Regions from separate parts of the Homo sapiens genome. Here region 1 is linked to region 2. Evidence: fine-mapped expression QTL. Tissue or cell type: esophagus mucosa. Region 2 holds a variant in brackets; the other region holds the start of a gene. All regions are shown on one strand. Distances are between the middles of the regions.

What was found. PIP is the estimated chance that this variant, and not a neighbour inherited with it, causes the effect.
Region 1: PPP1R14C starts here. The variant in region 2 is fine-mapped to the expression of PPP1R14C in esophagus mucosa (GTEx, PIP above 0.99).

What each region holds. Positions count from the first base shown.
Region 1 is chr6:150,138,497-150,146,600 of GRCh38, reverse strand. PPP1R14C (protein phosphatase 1 regulatory inhibitor subunit 14C) reads right to left here and starts at 3,557. Exons shown (of 4, transcript NM_030949.3): 1 at 3,103-3,557. The coding sequence starts at 3,408.
Region 2 is chr6:150,252,028-150,260,131 of GRCh38, reverse strand. No RefSeq gene overlaps it. Among named protein-coding and RNA genes, the nearest start is that of IYD, 110 kb to the left of the region's middle. The variant T/C (reference allele first, on the strand shown) is at 3,396.

The DNA.
Region 1 (8,104 bases), 110 kb after region 2:
GTCCTTTACCAGGTGGGACTGTACCAAGGATGGGAAGCAAAAGGGAAGAAACCCAGGCCAGGGCAGTCTCCTAACTGCATTTCAGTTCATGACTCTGGGAAGTAACATTTTGAATTCAAAATGCAAACCTAGACTTCAAGGTCATTATGAAGATGTAGCTGTCAAGATCAGTGGACAGAAGAAATTTTATACAAATGTTGTTAGTTTAACTCATAAGTTTTAAACATTTAGACAGATGTCTTGTAGACCTACATTTGCTCTCTTGCACGGTACAGACAGGCCTCATGGGTATACAGTGGACTCAGATTCCAGACTGGGTTCATCCTCAACCCCAACCCACCCACCAGCTACATGAGCTTGAAGCAGCCTTTTAATCCTCTCTGAGTCTTCACTTCTTTATTTACATTTAAACAAGGATAAAAAGAACATCTTCTTTATAGGGTTGTTATGAAGACTAAATGAATTAGCCCAAAGTACCTAGAAGAGCACCTAGTCACCTAGTAGGTAGGTAATAAATTCCCCTATGACATTATTCTCATACAAAACTGATTAGTCACTGCACACTTCCAGAAAAAAACACAGACAGAAAGTGGTTCTGTGTATTTCTTCTTTCCTCTTCCTCTTTCTAAATACATCACTTTACACTGCTCCAAAAGATTATTTTCTATTCTGAAAAGGTCAAGTCATCTGATTCCTAACCTGCTTGGGTCAAGTTCTTCTGAAATTAAAGATGTGTTCATATTCTACCCCAACTCAGCAGATAACTCAAGCCTTTGGCAGGTTTGAGGTTTGAAGGCTGGGAAATTGGCTGTGTCACTTTCATGGGCTAAACATTTGAAAGAATTACCACTTTTAAGTATAAAAAGGACATTTCCTAATCTTCGTATGCATGAAGTTCGGAGCTGTAAGCTAGGGTGCGTCCTTCTTGATTCACAAACCAGAGGCTGAAATACTTGAAGCTATCAACAAAGAAAGGTTACTCAACAAGAGAACCCAATGCTAAAAATAGAGCACTATCAGCAGAGAAATAGATGCAAAGAGACAAGCCTTTATTTGGCTACTTATTTGCCCATGTTTCTTTATTATTAAATGGAGGTACACCACCAGCATAGTGATTACAAATTGCCAACAACCTAATTATTTCTCTTCCTTCAGCCTACAATGACTGAACAAACAACTTGAAGAAAAATACTTGCCACGTTAATGACATGCAGGCAGCATATAGAGCATCTTGAATTATTTCACCACAAAAACCTCCCTTTCAAATGTCTAGCTGTTTGCTACGGGTTGAAGATTTAAAACCCAAGAAGAAAAGTACAATACAAGGAAAAGATTCAAGCTCATGTTTACCCTTTAAAATATATACCTAACCTACATGTTCCACACAGGAAACAATCAAACCTCCATTTTTTCTAATTATTCTGAAGTATTTTTTAAATATATTGTTTATCAGGCTACTCAGTGGGTAGAGCTCTTTCTAGCTTCCCAATCTAAGCCTAATTAGTCTCCCACAAAAAGAACCATGCTGGTGCACTGTTAATTTCAACAATGCTTTTTCTATTAATTCGAATCTTTTCCAAATCCCAAATGGAGAAAAAAAAAACAGTATGAAATAAATGAAAATTAACTGGATTCTACAGAGGCAGGACTGAGCACATCCACTCATCCAACAGTAATCCCATCTACATCAAATAATGTTTCTTTACAGAGTTTTGCCAACTTCCTATAAAAATCTCATGAATACTTCTTATGTTTGCCAGTTTTTATTTATGCAATTAAATTAGCTTTTTGTAAGAGCTGGACTGGAGAAACAACACATTTTTACAACCCCATTAGTCATACAGTCAAGCTTCATTATATTATAATCATTTATCAGTAGTCAGTAACGAGTATGCTGTTTTCTTGTGCAATGAGGGTGTTTAAGAAAACGTGTCTTCACAACAGGCCATGAAATGTGTCAAATACAGAACACCCGACATTAGTGGTAAAGCCTGTGAGTTCATCTGGTTGTCATCTCTGTTGAAGAGCACAACAGTTGAATGAACACAAACCTAGCTTTAGCTTAGAAGCCACATTCTTAATTATTAACCCCTTCATGCTTCCACCCTTTCCAAACTCCACTCCCTTAAGAGGAGGTCACTTCATTTAGAATTAATAACTGTTATTCAAGATGCTCATGAGAGATCATTTTGGCTTCAGTCGTTTTGCTGCAGTTTATTCTACATATTTCTCCCTAAATCAAATGTATACACGTCCCTGAGACTTGTGTATGACCTTAGTCCCTGGACCTTGGGAAGTCACGATGTCGTGGAGGAGAGGGGAGCTGGGAGCCTGAAGCTGACAGATCCCGGGATCCCGCAGGCCCCCCGCAGGGCTCCCGCCCTTCCACCGAGGCACCCGTCGAGGTTGCCCCAGATGCTCATTCTGCGCCCATCAATGGGAGTAACTGAGCTTAGAGAGGAAAAACTACGGCTTCAACAAAGCACAACGTGTGCAGCTCTGATAATGCAGGGCGGAATTATGGAGACACCGTCGGGGCTGGCTGGAAAGCGGAAAGCGTTCCATCTCAGGATTTTCACGGGGAATTTCAAGAACCAAGGGGGCCTCTGAGATCCCCAGAACCTCTCCTTTCCACGAGGCAGCTTCCTTCCTTCCCTGCTCGTTCTCCACAAAAATCAGGGCTGCCCGGATCCCAGCAGTGAGCGCTGCTCTCTTTGGCTGCTGTATCCCCAACCGCTGCTGAGGCGCAGCTGGAGTGAGCCCCTCCGAGCCCCGCTTTGCGCAGCTGCAGCTGGAGCCCAGAGGCGCCCGGAGCTCGGAGAAAAGCACTGTGCTCCGCGGGACCCAACCCTCCCCACGGCCACCAAGGGGGCCCGCAGATCCCCGGGCACCGGCAGCCGAACCCAGACAGGGGCGTCCCAACCGCTGAGCCCGACGCCAGAGGGCACCGCGGGGGAGAGAAGGCGCCGCGCCTCGCTCCTGGCACTTGGTCCCCGGGAGTCAGGGACATGCGCGCCCCGGAGCTGGAGCCCGGGAAAATTACTGCGCGGGCACAGAGGAGCTAGAGAGGTCCCCGACCCTCCCAGCCCCGCGCCCAGGTACCTCGCAGCCGTAGAGCTGACCCAGCTGCTCCACGATCCATTCCTCCAGCACCAGCCGCTTCCGAAGCTCCTTACGATCGTATTTCACTGTCACTTTTCCCTGCTGGTGTCGCCGCTGCTGTTGCTGCTGAACCTGCCCTGCAGCGGCCGCCGTGGCCACGGGCGCCGAGTCCTCCCGGGAGGAGCCTGAGCCGCTGCTGGAGCCGGGGCTGCCACCGGCGCCACCCCGGGGGCTTTGGAAGAAAACCCGTGCGCCGCCGCCGCTGGCCCCGCCGGCCGTCTCGCTGCTGCCCGTCGCCACCGACATGTCCCCGCGCGCCCGAGCCTCAGTGCGGCCCGGAGGAGGGGCGGGCGGAGCGCGCCCGGCGCCGCTACCACCTCCGGCCCGGCAGCCGCATGCGAAGGGCTCCCCGGCACCTGCTCTGCGCCGCGCGCGCCCAGCCGCCCGGCTGCTCTGGGAGGGCGGGAGGAGCCGCGGCGAGAGGGAGGAGGGCGGGGAGGACGACGGGGCGGGGACCGCAGCCTTAAAGAAGCCGCCGAGGACCCTCTCGGTCCAGCCCCCAGAGGCGGGATCTGGCGCCTGCGGCAGAGAGGGCCCGGGGCGTGGGAGTCTCCGCGGGGCGGGAAATGTGTGCGCCTAGACACGGGAGGTCGCCGATGTGTAGACTCCGGAAGGACGGGCGTGGGGCGGGGTGCCAGGGGATGCTCCTGCGCGGGTGTCCGTGGCCTCTAGTCTCGGAGACAGGGACTCACGCTTCTCCCGCAATCCCGGAGCGCAGGAAACGCGCCGCCTCTCGGGGCCTCCACCTGGCGCGGCCCCGGGCAGGACCCGCAGCGAAGGGGACACAGGAAAGGACCGCGCCGCAGGCTCCCCCAGGAGGTTTTCCTAGCCCCACCGTCTCCTCTGTTGGCTGGGTAGCGTCCCCTCCCCTCCAGCCCCGCCCCACGGCTCCAAACACACATTCCTATTCATGCCACGATGGATGCCACTTCCTCTCTGGATTGTGAGAAACATCGAAGAGGCGATGTTTGTGCAATAAGGCAGTCACGGCGCTTGAGAAATTATTTCCAGACCAATGTTTTCTTTCCTTACTAAGCGTCTGCTTAATCATGGGCACAGCATTCGGATATCTTCGTATCCAAAGGGCAGAAAGCGTGACGGCGCTCAGGCAAGGCGTCTGGGGGCATCCAGACAGTAAACATTTCTCTAAGAGGGTCGGCGACAGGGTCCTGGTTTCACATTTCTAGTGTTGCGTCCCGTGCACTGCCAGCTTTCTCTCCATCCCATTCCAAACAGCCCCTTCCACCCAGGAGGGCAACAGCACTGCCTGACTCTACTGCAAAACATCACAGCCTAGTAGTTACACATGAAGGAGCTTCTCAGAAGGGTTAGGACAATAAGGTGGGGAGGGAAGTTGTAAACAGAAAACTGCATGTGTAAAATTAGGGAGACACTAACATATTCTTCTTGTACACAACAATACATTCCTGTTCAGGAACTGATAGAAACCACAGAGACGTCCGAATGAATACAAGTAAGCGGCTTTTAGTAACGGTTTTGTTTTGTTTTGTTTTTTGAGACGGAGTCTCTCTGTTGCCCAGGCTGGGGAGCAGTGGCGAGATCTCGGCTCACTGCAACCTCTGACTTCGGGGTTCAAGCGATTCTCCTGCCTCACCCTCCTGAAGAGCTGGGATTACAGGCTTTCGCCACCACACCAAGCTAATTTTTGTATTTTTAGTAGAGACAGGGTTTCACCATGTTGGTCATTCTGGTCTCGAACTCCTGACCTCATGATCCGCCCGCCTGGGCCTCCCAAAGTGCTGGGATTACAGGTGTGAGCCACCGCGCCTGGCCATGAACTTTTTTTGTTTGTTTGTTGTTGTTGTTGTTTTTAAATAAAAGAGCCCTAAAGGTTACTGGCAGCTACTCAAAGAAGTTTCTCAGAGATAAAATAGATACCAAGTCAAATTCCTCGGAACACTTTCCTATGATGGAGAAGATCCTGTGTGGGGTTCTAGACTGACACTACAAAGACAAAATAAAAGTAACCAGCAGGTTTCTCCTGGCGCTTCAGGCTCTGCGATCCACCAGCGCCCAGCTCTGCTCTACCCAGGCTTAGGATCCATTGCCTTTGTACCCTCAGTCTGGGGTTTTCCAGTGAGAGCCTGAATAGGGATTTTCCCAAAGTGTTCCATGCCTGCGGCTCTTCACAGGGACATGTCAAGCCTCACAATGTGAAGGGGAAGGATCTGCGGAGATTGAAATAGGGTGGCTGGTGTGGGGCCCTGGACTCCTGCCATAATTACAAAGGGGTCAAAGCTGAACGATCTCTGCCCCGCTAGAAGAGGCCAGCTGCCCTTTAGAAGATGGGTTTTGCACCGAGCCTATCAGGGACAAGGGAGATGAATTACCTTGATTGCCCCTAGAGACCGATGACCAGTCTCTGCACCACCTCTGCCCCTCTGCCTTTAGGGTGGGTCACTGTAAACCCCGAACACACAGCCAAGAGAGTGACCACCTCAAAATGGAACTCTGTCTGCAAGGAGGAAGGGAAAGGAGGGCAGGAACCAGCCCCAGCATCTCCCACACAGAATCAGCTTATATGGCTCCAGACATCTGGCCAAGTCCGCTAGCACCAGCTTTGACCAACTGCACTAATCAGGAGAATGCAAATCAGAACGAAAACAGCTTAAATGTTATTAACAAAGGAGAAACTACATAAAATCTCTACCTCATTCTGGCCCTGGGACCTGACAATACCTATTGTGCCATCCCACAGTTTGGCAAAGTCTGGGGAATTCCAACTCCTTTCTTTAAGTCTTTGGACAACGAAATCAGTCATTCAAGGATAACGTCAAATAATTTTAAAAAATTCACTAAGTTCTTTCTGAGAAATTCTGATGTCAATTTTTTTCTCACAGCATAAGATGCTTTTTCCTTTATGCTTAAAACTCAATTTTCCCTTACAACTCCAAAATGACAGATACTAAAAGACATGGGTTTTAAGCATCTTGACTCACAGAAGAAAATCCAGGAAATAGTCTCTTTCCACAGGTACGCTGGCCTTCAGATGTTCAAGTGAGTCACCTTGACTGGCAAATAGAATTGAACCAGGGTTCCTCTTTCTTTAAATCCATTTGCTCCACCCAGTACGTAATTTATATTCAAAGTGAAGTCCATATCATCTCCTCTACCCCCAGACACACACACTTCATTCCAGGTTTGAATAATCAAAACTTAATGGCCTCATTTTGACAGATAGAAATACTGCTTTTGCAGATTTCAAATATTGAAGCCAAAATATTTAGGAATAAAGGAATTTTTCCTAGTCCAGAGACCCTTTACATAGCTGACTATTTAAATTCGGCAAAACCAGTGGTATTTCTCATCTACAAAACCAATAATATATACATTTATTCAAGGAAAACATTTTTATTTCTAGCCTATTTAGTCAAGTGTTTTTAGGTGCTGGTTAATCTAAGACAGTGAATAGCTTTCAGTGAATTGAATGGTCCGGAATCAACTTTTACCTGAAGGCAATTACTCCCTGCTATGAGAGGGCAGCCTAAGGATGTTTCATTTGAATCTTTTTCTTCGTAGTTTTGTGTTTTCTTAGCTTGGTTATGTTTTACTTGCTTCCCAAATTGGACAAAGTTTTTTGTTTGTTTGTTTAGGAATTATATAGGTCCTTTATCTCTGAATATGATCTTTATGCCCAAAGGTTGTTAGACAGGATGGATGACTTAATCAGGAGTCCTGGAACTTTTGTCACCCCCCAGGAAAATAATTAAATACACATGTTTATACTCAGATGCAAATTTCCTTAAACGGCACAATAATTATGCAACACCTGGTAATCTACTTTGACAATGTTATAATTGCATCCTGGAGACCCACAAACCTGAACATAATCTTCTTATCTTGAGTAATAAATGTCAAATGATAAGATGCCTATATCCGAATCCTCTCCAAGATTTGATGAAGCAAAAAGACAAATTAAAAATTATTTTCAGTCTGGTTTTCATTATAAATGTTGAAGAAACTTAATCTGTCTTTCAGGATTCCATTGGTTACCCACAGCATTTTCCATTTTCATTCCAATATTTCATTGTTCTTTACAGAGTGATAACAGCACAGCTGTTGACAGTATATCAGTGAAGTTTTTCTTTTGGCTACTGTTTCACTCTCCACTTTTTCTCCTTCTAATTCTGGACCTTTGATTGTATCAGGCTGGGATCAATTTAGGATCGTAATTCCAAAATAATTTGGCCGTTGCTTGCATTAAAAAAAAAAAAAGCAACAGCAATCATTGTTGCAAGTCTAAAATTTTGTCTCAAAAACTAACGTAAGTTCTCACCTCACTGTTCAGACATGATGAAAAATGGGTGAAAAAAAAACCATAGCTTTGTCCATCCCTTTAAACAAAAATTACATACCTCTGCCCATTTCAGTAAGCCTAACATGTGGGGTATATTGTCTCCTTCTGAAAAACTAGGTTCAAATTTGTTTCTAGAGGAGCAAATTATCCTCCCTTCTAGCCAATGGCCTCTTGTGCTCCTCGCTTTTACCACCAAACATTCTGGAGGAAGTGTCCCTTCCCCCACGTCTCTAGGTCTTCCCATCTCATCGTGGAGCCCTGCGCCCTCACTGAGGTCACCAGCCAGCTCTGTGTTGCTCAAGCACAGGTGCGCGTTTCAGCGCTTATATAACTTGACCTTCTGCCACATTTAACAATCTTGAACCTTTCCTCACTATTCAAACTCTCTCCTGTCTTGGCTCCAGGTACCAACACCCTCCTGATTTTCCTCCTACCTCTTTATCTATTGCATTACAGTGAGTGTTTTTTGTGGGCTCTTTTTCCTACACCCCTGCCCTCAAGGTAGGTGGTTCCCAAGTTCTGCCCTGGGCTCTTTCCTTACTCATTCACAGCCTCCCCAGGTGCTTTTGCTAGAGCTCCAACTTCCTGCAGCTTTGACTCCCACCTACCTGCCACAGACCCCTC
Region 2 (8,104 bases):
AGTAAGGTGCTTTATGTATCTATGCACTTATATACACATGAACTCTAATCTTGCTGTTGTTTACATTTTACAGACGAAGAAAACAAGGGGCAGATACCTAAGTCAGCACTGGGAACCACATAGAAAGTAAAAGCAGAGCTGGAGCTAGATTCAGATTTTTTTTTTTTAAAGATAGAGTCTTACTCTGTTGCCCAGGCTGGAGGGCAATGGCATGATCTCAGCTCACTGCAACTTCCACCTTCTGAGCTCAAGTGATTCTCCTGACTTAGCCTCCCCAGTAGCTGGAACTGCAGCTGTGTGCCATGGTACCTGGCTAATTTTTGTATTTTTGGTAGAGATGGGGTTTCACCATGTTGCCCAGGCTGGTCTCAAACTCCTGACCTCAGGTGATCCACCTAACTCAGCCTCCCAAAGTGCTGGGATTACAGGTGTGAGCTACCTCATCCAGCCCTAGATTCAGATTTCAAGATCACTGCTCTTGACTGACTGACTGATCGACGGATTCATTGATTGGCACCACATCTTTGTAGCTACTTAAGTTTCCAGACTAATGAACATGACCTTTCCCCTGTATGTGTTCACACTGTGCCAAACCTTTTCACATTAATTGCTCATTTGAGCCCTTCTACTCTGTGGAATTGTCAGGGTAAGTGTTCTTAAGTTTATAGATAAAGAGAATCCCAAGAAGGCCAGACAGATTAAATCACTTGCTCAGACACCAGGCTGGGCTATAATAGGCCCAAGTATTCTTTTCACTCTGTCAGTCTCCCGTAGTCCACTAGAGCCCCACAGAAAATCACAATGAAGACCATACCCTACTCCCCTGCCCCTAACCCCCTTGCAATGTGTTCTGGGCAAGACCCTTCCCTGCAATATATTTGCATGGTTTGATTAATGTGTTCTGTGGAGGAAATATTCAGATCAGTGTACCTGAACCACAGACTGCTTAATCTAGCACCTAATTTAGGGCTTACCTTAATACATATATGATATATGGTTTGGCTGTGTCCCCACCTAAATCTCATCTTGAATTCCCACGTGTTGTGGGAGGGACCTGGTGGGAGGTAACTGAATCATAGAAGCAGGTCTTTACTGTGCTGTTATCGTGATAGTGAATAAGTCCCATGTGCTCTGATGGTTCTATAAGGGGGAGTTTCCCTGCACAAGCTCTCTCTTTGCCTGCTGACATCCACATAAGATGTGACTTGCTCTTCCTTCCCTTCTGCCACGATTGTGAGGCTTCTCCAGCCATGTGGAACTGTAAGTCCATTAAACCCTTTTTCTGTATAAATTACCTGGTCTCAGGTATGTCTTTCTCAGCAGCATGAAAACAGACTAATACAATATACAAGATAAAATAAGAGGCAAAAGACATGATCACCCATGCCTCCCTATCCCAGGTAACAGTCTAACTTGGAGTCTAAGTTCCATGTATAAGCACTAGCTATACACAGTTTAGCAGAATTGGCTTTGTAATCAGATCACTGGCCTTGAAATAGAAGCTTTATCATCTACTGAATGTATGACCTTACAGTACTTACTCTCTCCAAGCCTCAGTTTCCTTATCTATATAATGGGAAAGACAATCCCCTCCTGAGGCAAGTGTAACTATGAAGATTCTGTGGACAATAAACTCAAGTGCACGGTACGTGGCACGGTAAGCGCTCAATAAAAGGTAGCTGATGGCCCCATTACTTGCGGTTTGAGCTTGCAGATTCTTTTCTTTTCCTTTCTCTTTCTTTTCTTCTTCTTCTTTTTTTTTTTTTTTTTTTTTTTTTTGACAGGCTCTCACTCTCTCACGCAGGCTGGAGTGCAGTGGCGCGATCACAGCTCACTGCAGCCTCAACCGCCGGGCTGAGTGATCCTCCTAGCACAGCCTCCCAGGTAGCTGGGATTATAGACACACACCACCATGCTGCTTAATATTTCATATTTTTTTTGTAGAGAAGAGGTCTTGCCATGTTGCCCAGGCTGGTCTCAAATTCCTGAGCTCAAGCAATCTGCCCACCTCGGCCTCCCAAAGTGTGGGACTATAGGCGTAAACCACTGCCCCCGGCTGGGAAGAGATTCTTGATTAAACCTGTGTGTAGTCATGTGAGCTGGACAGGCTGAATGGGTGCTGCATGGGGTCATCCAAAATTAATAGTAAGAGGGAGACTCCAGCTCTTCCTGGGCCTGTTCTTGCCACAACTGCTTTGGACCATTCTGCAGAGAAAAACTAAACCCGGCCCTTTTGTCAATATATTACAGAGGGAAGCCAATTCCACCCCGGCCCCTCATTCTTCAACATATTTTTATGGGTGTATTTACCACTCCACACTGTCAAGGGCCACCCTAATCCTTCCTGCTGGGGCTAGATAGTATTTTTGTCCAATTTTTTCACATTCCCCAGAGCCACCCTTGTAGATCAAGAGATTGGGTTCCCAGAGGCTGCACCTCAAGCCCTGTGGCTACTAAAACCTCATCCTGTGGGGGCCTGCTGACTTCATCACTTCTAATAACCTGAGCTCATTTCCTCAATGAGGAAAATCACTGGCACTACAGCTTGGCCTTGGGACCACAATTTAAGAAGAGTCGGGGCCAGCACTTTGGGAGGCCAAGGCAGGCAGGATTGCCTGAGTCCAAGAGTGAGACCAGTCTGGGCAACATGGTGAAACCCTGTCTCTACAAAAAATAGAAAAATTAGCCAGCATAGTGGTGCACGCCTGTAGTCCCAGCTACTCAGGAGGCTGAGGTGGGAGGATTGCCTGAACCTGGGAGGCAGAGGTTGCAGTGAGCCATGATTGCACATTTGCACTCCAGCCTGGGTGACAGAATGAGACTCCATCTCAAGAAAATAAAATAAAATAAAATAAAAGTCGGGAGAAAGATGGGGCTGCCACAGCATTATTACAAAAACCTGGAATGCGGCATCGTGGGCAAGCTTCATCCATCTCCTTGAGGAGACTCCTCTCTGACAGCTACAGGTAATTTGAAAGCTTTTATGAAGCCTTGGCTGGAAAACCAATGAAGCTTCCAAACTCAGGCAATGCAACAGAAGCGTCTAAACAGTTAGTCATAAAACATTCTTTCCTAATCCACAGAAGACATTAACATTTATTTTTCCAATTACCAATGAATAATCCTCAAGGGCTTTTCCCTAAAACTGACAACACAAAAATAATTACTCTCTTAGTAATGAAGTGGGTATCCAAGGGAGATGGTTGGGTTGATGAATGATGATCATTTTAAAGCTCCTTCATTTCTGCATGGTTTTTGCCGGATTAATCGTCATTGAAGGAACACTGAGTTTATTTGTTGTTGGCAACAAAATGGGAAATTCAGCTCTTGAAGGGTTTCTGCCTTCAGGCTCTGGCCTCATTAGAAACATGGCTTTCTCTGTTTCATCATATGGT[T/C]GAGTCATTCTTCATCTCAGGTGGTGAAAGGGTGAGCGGTACTTAAGCAACAGCAGTTTCTGTTCCTAAGGTTAAATGTGCAACCTACTTTCTCTGTACAATATCCCTAAGAAGTATCGTTAGTGTTTCTTCCAAATAAAAAGCGTAAGTTAAGGAGCAGTATCTTGGATCAAATGACTCTCATGATAAGACACGAGGAAAAAGAGCAACTGCCTTCCTTCTAAAAGTTATATTTTAAAGATTTTACATTTCCAGCCCAAATAAAATGCAATAGCTTTGTTTCCTTGCACAGCTATGACACAATAAAGAATGCACAAAGTGTTTTGTTAAGGAACAGGGCATCATTCTTACTCTTCCCGCCTTCATTTCTTCCTGGAGATAAGACGACAAAATATGGACTTTCCTCCCATCCATTGCTCTGTATTGCATGGCAGTATTCACATGTCTGTCTTAATTTGTTTGTCTGATAGCCTAAACAAGATGATGGAAGCATAAGGGAGTGGGTTAGGGCATTGGCAATTGAAGTTGACGTGATGCTGAACGGGTTGGAGGCAAAGTTACACCAAGGGCTTGTAAGCATGAGAACCCACAGGCGAAGCAACCCAACATGGAGTGCAGGGAGGAAGAAGAGAGCTGGAACCCACCTCCTGAACAAGCCAGTGTGTGCCTGTGAGCGGGTGGGGATGGGCCCGTGCAAGGCTCGCTGCCAGGCAGGCTGTTACTTGCTGCTGGGGCGGTGTCCTGGGGAGAAGTGATCATCTATGGAAGGAATTCAGCAGAGTGGATGATGTGGGAATGAAGGAGACCAGGAAATCCGATCAAGGTGAAGGCTGAGCCTGAGGATGGGAGGCAGAGCTTGACCCTGGCTATTCCTGGGACACCCGAGCCCTGGCTCCCTGGGTGGCTGCAGTCTCCTGTGGGCCTGGGCTCCAAGGCTCTGGGTCCTGGCTCTTCACCTGTTCGAGGTATGGACACTTTGAGACCCCAATGTGGCATGGACCCTCCCACACATGCTCATGCCTGTCTGCTACTCTCTGGCTCTCTTCATTCCAGCATCCTGTCTTGGGATCACCATCTCTCTCTGTTGCTCTATGTGTGGCTCACCTCAATCTGTCTCTCCTTTCTAAGTTCCATCTCCTACACAGTTTCAGAGATTATGAGGACCTCACTAAGTCCACATGAACTATAATTTTAAGACATCCTAGATTAAAGATTTAAGTAGCGAGTTTCCCAGCTCTCAAATAAGCACAGATGTTTCAGATAGAAAATAAGATTAGGAGAAAAAAAAACTATGCATTTTTTTTAAATCAGTTTGAGAGGTTTTGGTTAATTCTCTCATTACCAATTACAGAAAGAGGTGATTCTCTATGGCTCTGGGGTATTCCGTGAGGATGAAACACTATAGATTACACATACTGATTCCCCATGTTGAGATTACAGCCAAAAAGAGCAAGGTGCTACCCTAAGTGCTGTAGAAGGATATTTAAGAAAAGACAAATAAGCTTATTTGTCCCTTATCCATGAGCTATCAGAAAGGAGGTCTGAGTTAGAAATGTTCCCTTTTAAAAATCTAATCAACACCAAAGGAGTAATTTTGTGCTACTAATAACAGAAAACCAAATAGTAAATCACTCACCCTCAAGCATCTTGTGACCCGGAGGGTGTGTTGGGTTACACTTTATGTGAATCATTTAGCGACCTGAATAGAATCAATCTGGTAGCCTCAGATATTCCCTGACTTCAATTTCTATTTTTGGTAACCACTGGGTGGGCCGTGATACTGCAAGTAAGTTCACAAAACTGCTTCTAGAGATTAACTGGGGAATTTCAAAATTGCCAGTGATGATGCACCACTCATATTATGTAGATACATATTTTAAACAGAAAGATTCGAGGCAAGAATCTTTGCTTGTCTTCTCTGCCTCACTCTACTGGGTAATTTTGCTGTAAACTCCCAGGACAGTCCATCTCTCCATCTCTCTTTCATGAGTCTTTTCACCCCAGGCAACATTCGCTTCACGTTACCAACAACGAGGAAAAGAAAAGGTGGCTTTTGTGAAATTAAATTCCTTCCACAGAACAACCACTTCCAGGCATGAAATCTCTTTAAAGGAAACTTCCGACCCTATGCATTTGAAAATGATTAATCAATCAGAGTCTAAATATAAGAAAATGTCTATTAATGACAAAAATGATTCAAGTCCTATTGAAAGAGACCAAGACAACTGACCATTGTCAAGACTTGTATAGGGTCTAAGGTTTTACATTACTGTAAGCTAACAAATTAGCCTGTCAGTTTCATAGATGCTGGTAGAAGATGCTACATTCCTGAGTCAGAGAGGAAGGACAGTTACAGCAATAGCAGTGGCTAGAGTAGTGGCACTTCTCGAGCCCCAGTTCTCCTAGGGTGTTGCAAAGAAGGACAGATGACGCCCGTGCATGCAGTGGGTCGCATCCCAGGAAAGGGGCTCGACACTTAGGGAACCCATATCTTTTATAATAGACAGCTTTGCTCTGCATGGAGACACTATCTCTAACTTCCAAGACTGTTTGCTATACATATAAACGTTCTTGAAAAAAGGGTCTGGAACAAAGGCAGTCTCACTCACAAGACATGCAGAAACATGAGAACCATGTAGAAATGTCTCCTAACAACTTGAACACTGAATTACAATTAAGTCTATACAGCGCCTATGTTTAGAATGCACTCTTCTTTACCCCCTGTGCTTGCTGGAACTAATTACCTCCTAGAATCCACTGGAACAAGGTGAGCCCAAAGAAGCCCACCCCGCTAGTTTCATTTACACCCCACCAAGGAGACTGAGCATGAAGAAAACACACACCAGACACTAATCTGCCCTTATTTATCCAATTGACTCAATAAAACAACAGAAAAGCAGGTTTCTCAAGGACTTCGTTTGTAGCTGTTCTAGTATCAGTCTTATTGAAATGTCTGCTAATGTGTTGTGATGGGAACACCCACAGAGACACGGGAGGCAGAGAACAATCCAGTCTTAAAAGAACAATCCATCCCCAGGCAAGATGTTCCAGTCAGCAAGAGAGAACTGGTTGGCCTTCATGGCCGCACAAGAAGGCTATTAGTGAAGCATTTCCAGCATTTGTTTCTGAGTGGGGTTGGGTGGGAACTCCATGAAGCCTGCACTGTTCTTTCTCACTCATAGAAGACTGAGAAGCCACTCCATTTTCACAGGCAAATTACAAACACACAGTGGGTTGTACCCCAAGCCCTCAAGGAAATGAGACTAGTTCTGAGGAATAATTCTCCAGGACTATTTGGGTTAAAATTAATTCAAGCAAAGAGAAACCAGTAGGGGAAAATAGTGGTATGCTTGTGTCCAATTTGAAAATGGCTTTCAGAAAGTTCCAACTACCCGATAGGAGTTTTGTTTTCTTAGACAACAGACAAGGGTCCCTGCCACCCACAGCACTTCTCTCTTAGGCTATGCAGCAGCACTGAAGCGTGCTGACTCCTTGACTCTGAGCACCCAAAGACAAGAGTCAAAGGAAGTAGATAGGGGCCATAGAGGGACAGATATGACTCATGACTACACAGGCTCACTCTCAAAGTGGCTAGATTCCAGGAAAGGTTCCCAGGAAGCAGAGGGAAGCCCCAGAACCTTTCACTCAGAGGCAAAAATAGGGTGGCTGAGTAGGGATGGGGATGTGTCCAGTAGCTGTGGACCTGCCACTCTCTTGCTAAACAGCAGTCATGTCAAAAACAGCTTAGGTTTCCAAAAGCTGATTTTGCACAGCACACAATCTTTTATGGAGACTTTAGGTGATTGTCTTAGGCTGTTTGTGTTACTATAAAGAAGTACTTGAGGGCAGGCAATTTATACAGAAAAGAGGTTTATTTGGCTCGTGCTTCTGCAGACTGTATAGGAAGCATGGCACCAGCATCTTCTTTTGGTGAGGACCTCAGAAGTTTCCAATCACGGCAGAAGGAGAGCCGGCTTGTTACATGGCAAGAGAGGACGTAAGACAGAGAGGGGAGGAGGTGCCAGGCTCTTTTTAACAACCAGATCTAGAGGGAACTAAGAGTAAGTACTCACTCAATCCCAGGAGAATGGCACCAAGCCATTCATGAGGGGTCTGCCCCCATGACCCAAACACCTCTCACCTCCAACACTGGAGATCAAATTTCAAAATGGGATTTGGAGAGGACAAATATCCAAACTATGTCAGTGATAAATAAGTAAAAACCTGTTTAATTCCTGTGTTTCAGGAATTGAAAATCACCTTGTCCTGAGCTGCTCTTTCTCAGGAAACTGATGGCTGGATACTCCTTGCTCAGCTGCTAAGCCCAAGTCCAGGAGCTTTATGTTATGGGGAAAAGGCAAGAGGACTCTGGATAAGGAGGGCCAGCATCACAGGGCCTGGCTGCACTGCAGATGGGGAGCAGGGAGTCCCTCAGTTCCCAGGAGTGAGGAAGAGCCCCACAGGTGGCTGGGATCTCCTCCATCCACAAGGCCTCCTCCCCTACCCTGCCAGCTCAGGGACCTGGCTCACTTTAAATGTGGCTTCTGGGGTTCACTCTTGTGAGTGGGACTAAGAGTAATTCCCTAAGAGTGGCAAGAAAGTCTAATGGTTATGGGACTTTGGAGCCAAATAGGTTTGGGTTTGAATCTCAGTGTTGTAGCTGTGTGGACTTAGGTAAGCTGCTAAGCCTGAGTTTATTTTCTTATCTG